Linked DNA regions of Homo sapiens. The gene in region 1 interacts genetically with each later gene. Each region holds a gene or a part of one and is shown in the gene's direction. Other genes may lie near its edges.

Region 1 (3,661 bases):
CAATATCAATATTCAGCTTTTAGATGTGTTGAGCTTGAAGTGCTCAGATGGAGAAGTCCAGGAGGCAGTAGAATACGGTGGTCCAGAGCACAGGAGAGCAATGTGGCTTGAGTTGTCATTTGCTCACATATTTCCGTGTCAGTTACTTGTCTTAGATCACAGAACAAGTTCTCCTCTCACAGTTTCCTGGCTCCACCTGTCTCATGCTCACCGTCAGCATCGAAATTGAGCCACACCAGGGGTTCTGGATACCAGCTTCTCTCTAGGTGAGGCTGCTATAGTCAGCAGCTGATTAGTTGCAGTTATCAGCAACTGGTAATATAATATATTGTGCATATAAGTGTACCAGAAGTCATGTTTATATATTGCTGCAAATACTCGGAATGGGGATCTCTTGTTCCCTGCTTAAGACCACATCACATTACTTGGTTTTGTACGCTAGTGGCTGAACCAAAAAAAGTAGGAGATGATTTTTTTTCTTTTTTCTTAAAGCAGTAGCTTTTGAACCTTGACCATGCTTTCTAACCAGCTGAGGGGCTTTTGAAAAAGAGGGTGCCTTACTGTGCCCCAGACCAGGACAATCAGTATTTCTGGGGAATGGAGCCTGGCACACACACATTTCTTAAAGCTCCCTTGGCAATTCTGAGGAGTGGATTACATGTTGTATGTAGCTCGTAACGAAAGAAATCTTGTCTTTGCTCTCAGACCCCCATTTCTTACTCATCTCATGAGCTCCTTCGAGATCCAGAAACAGTTGCATATTTCATTAGTAAATCAGTTCCAGAGTCACATTTTATTTCACAAGTTAGTCCATTAAAAGTTTCCTGCAGTGAGGAAATAGCCAGAAAGAACACTCCACCCCTCCTCCTTTTTATAACTATAGGGTCTGGCTCGACAGAGCAGGAGCATCGCCATCTTGGACAAGCCCCTCATTCTAAAGTTCACCTTAATAAAAAACTGCCTAAATTCAAACTGCATCAGCCTAATGGCTAAGGTCAGCATGACCATAAACCACAAATAACATCTCCAACCGGAAACATTCGAAACTCCTCCTCGACCAGAGACATGCTAGTCCCGAGATAACCCCCCTCCAGCAGGGAAGATGCCAGTCTCGGGATAACCTCTCTCTGGCCGGAAAGATGCCTGCCCCAAGATAAACTTGCCTCCTCCCAGAGATATTCCAACCCTGCCATAAAACTTCTCCCTCAAACAGGAACATTCCAAAATTCTGATAATCTCCCTCACCCTAAAACCAATATATACTCCTAGTCTGTAAGAGAAAGCGCTCTTGACCAAAATTCACCAGGAGTGCCTCCCAGGTTTTAACTAAAGAAAACCTCTCTTTAACTGCCAAAAAAAAAAAGGGAAAAAAAAAAGCTTTCTGCAGTGGCTTTCAGCGGGCCCAGCATGGCAGCAGCACCTGAGAACCTGTTGGAGATGCACACTCTTGGACCCCACCCTGGCCTCTGAGTAAGACACTGGAAGGGCAGGCCCCGGTCTGTGCACACAAGTCCTCAGGGAGATTCTGACTGATGCATGCCAGATTTTGAGAACTGCTGATATACTCCAGGCACATCGCATGCTGGGATCTAGATACACCAAGGGAACAAAATAACTGCACTTGTCCTCTGAGGACCGACTTACCTTTTGGAAGGGCTGAGAAAGAGAGACACATACAAGATCACTCCCTGTAATGCAATGTTTTATAACAGATGTGATTTGGGATTTCAGTGGGAGCCCAAAAGAGGGACTGACTAATTCAGCCTCTGTGACAAGGGGAGTTTCTCAGAAACAGAATGCTTAGCTGGGCCTCCAGGCACAGGGACAGGAATGAGGAAATACTTGTAGGCCCTGTGCTCCTTCAGCAAAACCCTCAGTTTCTTGTTATTTTTATAAATGCAAACATCTTATTAAAGTAGATGCTAAGGCATTAGAATTTCCTGCTTTATTTTTCTAAATGACCATGAGGAAACCTGGAATGTCAAAGATAAAGTGCAACACATTCTGCATTTAAAAATTAAAATGATCCTTTTTAAAAGTAGCAACCAGATGTGAAAAATTGGACTGGAGTCCAGGTTATAGTTGATAGCTTTAACTTTCTCCCCAACAGCAACAGCACAATTTTCCCTAAAATGTGTTATGAATAAGTAAAATGACTACTTCACATCCTTTAACTCTTCCTACAGAAATCTAAGAGAGAAATGAAACAAAAGTTTGCACAGTTCTAGACACGATAAATACATGTGAAATCACACAACTCAGAAAATGTCCCTTAAATTAATTGAGCCATTGGTACTTGTGAATTAGAAGAGACATCTATGTTCTGATCCACTGTTGAAAGCTGTACAATGTTACCTATTTATTTGCAGACATCCTTTGGAAACAAATAGGTAGATTTGCAACAAATAAAGAGTGGAGTACAGCTGCTGACATTACCTTGTATATTCATGCCTTTATGTAAAAAAAAAAAAAAAAATATATATATATATATATATATATATATATATATACACACACACACACATATGGAGGTAAAGACCACTGCTTGCTTTGCAGTTGTTTTAAGAGCATTCATGAAGGATTTTATTTTATAAGCAGAAATGTGATATCTGACGATTTTACCACTACATGCTTGCAGGCCAGTGCACAGCAGATGACGTCATGATTGTTTTAGCAGTCCTATCGTTTTACTTATGATGTCATTACAACCCTTTGCTAAAATTTCTTTCCTTTACTCCAGGTTTTGGATAAAATTGATGCATTGCACATAGTCTCTCTGATAAGACAAACTGGCATTTGTATGTGAAAAACTGTGCATGTTTTAGTGTCTCTGCTGATACTCAAATTATCCATTATTTTAGTGCTGGAATAAAAACAAACCACTTAGTGAATTTGTGCAGGTCCTTAAGGACAGGCAAAGGTGTCCTGAGATTTTCTGATCATTGTATACCAAATTTTAGAAACTTTTTCAAAAACATTTTTTTAATTTCAAAAACCTGGTTTTGTTTATTTACCAGCAATCATTGAATACCTGAAAGCTTTCAGGAGATTTTATTACAATGGTTTCTATTCACTTACAAAATTATCTCCTAGTTCATTCTCATACACTGTAAGCCATTGTAAATGCTTCAAATTGTGCCGAACAAGATAAACTAGACAAACTATTTTAAGTTTGTTCTAGTGCTAACTTGCAAGATCTAATGGCTCCAACTAGATTTTTAAAATAAAGTATATTTTAATATATTATTAGAAAGTTAAGCAATTATCTGTTTATAGGTAACAAAAACCCTGGAACCCCAATGTCAGATGTCATCCACTTTTGATTAAGTCCAAACATATGACAGATAAACAAAAGATGGTTGGCTGGGCTCAGTGGCTCATGCCTGTAATCTCAGCACTTTCAGAGGCCGAGGCGGGCGGATCACAAGGTCAGGAGTTTGAGACTTGCCTGACCAACATGGTGAAACCCGCCTCTACTAAAAATACAAAAAAAACAGCTGGGTGCGGTGGCACGTGCCTGTAGTCCCAGCTACTCAGGAGGCTGAGGCAGGAGAATCACTTAAACCTGGAAGGCAGGGGTTGCAGTGAGCTGAGATCACACCACTACACTCCAGCCTAGGCGACAGAGCAAGACTCAGTCAAAAAACAAAAAAAAAGTGGT
Region 2 (2,521 bases), on another chromosome or scaffold:
TATTTTTAGTAGAGACGGGGTTTCACCGTGTTAGCCAGGATGGTCTCAATCTCCTGACCTCGTGATCCGCCCGTCTCGGCCTCCCAAAGTGCTGGGATTACAGGCGTGAGCCACCACGCCCAGCCCCTTAAATATTATATCTTAAAGTTAAGTCATTTAAATGCCATTTATTAGTTAGGGCAGGGTCTTTTGAGTATCGTTTAGTGTTTGGAATTTGATTTTATCTTTCTTTTATAAACTATACCCATAATACAGCATCAGCAATTTCCAGTTTGGATTCCTTAAAGTAGAAAAGGAACTTGATATATGCAAAGCAATAGGATCTTTCTCCCTCTCCTTCTGTGACTTTCACCTTTTTTTTAAGTGACTTGCTTTTCTTGACTCTTTAAAAACATTTTATTTAGATTTCATAGAACAATTTTTTTTAACATTCATTTTTATTTACTTTTCCCATGGCAACCCTATGACCTAACACTGTTATCTCCATTTCATAGATGGAGAAAATCAGACTTTAAAAAGATTACCCTATTTTGTGCACATTGAAGTCTAATAAATGTATTGCTAACTGACAACTTGAAGCGAGGTATAGAAAATGCCAAGATATTATTATAGCATAAGATACTAGGTTATTTTTGCATGAAATAGTACAACTATGTTTTTCTAATCTTTGTAGCCAAGTTTATCTCTAGAAATAAAATTTATAATGGAGATATCATTATCAGTATGATTTTGCATACAATCTCTTAAAACAGATTTCAGAGCAACTAATGATCTAGTCAGAAGGCCTGAATTTTAATTCAGACAAAACCAGTTACTAATTCTATGACCTTGAATAAACCATCTATTCTCCTTAGGCCTCTGTACATGGAGGAGATTGAATTTAATGGATTCCCCAAGGTCTTTCTAATCTCTGATTCTCTGTTTACAAACTATTTTACAAACTGTAAAGCCTTCTGATTAAAATGTATTAGACAATAAACATACTTTTTGTGAAACACATTGCAAAATGCAAAATTTATATTGGATTTCCCAGTTTTTAATGAATTGGGTGAAAATTGAATGTAATAAAAAAGTTCACAAATGATTCCATTGTTAATAAAAATTATAAAACATTTCAGAAACATTTTGAAATCAAGCAGCTAAGTTAAAAAAATGAAGCAAAGATAAAAATTTGTTCTTAATGATCTATAACTCTTAAAATCAGTCTGTATACTATCCATCTGTTACACACTGGAATTACTATAAAATTAGCCTAACATGTATTAACAACTAGCAAAAGAGAATCAGAGATTCCTAGGGTGCTTAGATAAGTATTACCAGAAAAGACTCATGTTTCTGTCTGCTGGTCCGTCCACCAGTAGGGTTCATTCTAGACCATGGCAGCAACCCCTTTTTCCCTGGCCAATTCATTTTAATCTACTAAAAGATTATACATAGCTTTAATCACACCACGTCTCTTTTTAAGGGTTTTTGGTGACTCTGTGTTGCCTAGAGAATTAGGTCTTGACCACTTACCCTGATTTTCAAGGCTCTCTCAGGCTGGCCCCTGCCTGTCTTTCCAACCTCATTCCTTATTGTTTCCTTGTATGTGCCTTTCATAGTAGGCTATGTGAACTATTTAATATTTGCTTTCCCAGGACATTCCCTCTTTACCTTGCTCATGTGGTCCTGCTGCAAATATTGCCTTTCCCCTCATCATCCCAGCTTTTCACCCTCTCCATCTTTCCAGACGCAACTCAAATAGCACTCCTCTTACAAAGCCTTCCTTGATCTCCTCAGCCGAAATTTCTCTCTACTGTGGAGTGTAATAGGCCTTTATCTGTGACCCTCATCAGTTCTCCATTCTTGGTAGAGGTTTTTAAGTATATGACTTACTGGGTTGGAAATTTGAGTTAGTCAAATGTATTCCTGTATGCTGAATAGTGAATAGTTTATAACACAGTCTTTTATATAGTAAGGCTTTAATTAAATATGCAAAATTATCACTGGTATACACTATTTCTGGGTTCACTTCACCAAATATTTATTAGATACCTACAGTGTGCAAGTCACTTCAGTACGAAGAGTGAGACGTAAAAGGATTAGTTAATACAAGACAGATGAACAAAAGAAATGGAATAACTTCTCAGTTTCCAAAAACTTGATAAATGAAAATACCACCCAAGAAACCAACAGTCACTCACTCAAGCAAAATGATATTTTTGTTGTCAACTCCAACTGCAGAAGGCGAGAAGGCAGGGATTTGAGACTGTGGAAAGTGAAACTGAATATAAGGAGAGATTACTAGAGTGCATAATTTGAAATGATACTCAAAATTAAAGTTTAATGATAGTATTTGAGAAAAAATAACATAAGTTATGAACCAGGCATGTTTGTATTCAGTCACAGTGAAATTTACAAGAAGAGATTTTCTGTAAAAAGACCAAGGAAAGGCCAAGATTAGAATGAAGAATTACATTGACTTAGGTTGCTTTTTCAGTTTATATCATACTAAATGAGTGCATATGCCAGACTTACAAGT

What was found. A genetic interaction does not mean that the proteins touch.
Region 2: changes in EGFR (region 1) and PRIM2 together harm fitness more than expected from each alone (negative genetic interaction), as found in Homo sapiens cells (one large-scale study listed by BioGRID).

The regions. Positions count from the first base shown.
Region 1 is NC_000007.14:55,025,517-55,029,177, forward strand, and holds part of EGFR (epidermal growth factor receptor isoform a precursor), read left to right. Parts: intron 1-3,661. UniProt on the Homo sapiens protein: Receptor tyrosine kinase binding ligands of the EGF family and activating several signaling cascades to convert extracellular cues into appropriate cellular responses.
Region 2 is NC_000006.12:57,642,616-57,645,136, forward strand, and holds part of PRIM2 (DNA primase large subunit), read left to right. Parts: intron 1-2,521. UniProt on the Homo sapiens protein: Regulatory subunit of the DNA primase complex and component of the DNA polymerase alpha complex (also known as the alpha DNA polymerase-primase complex) which play an essential role in the initiation of DNA synthesis.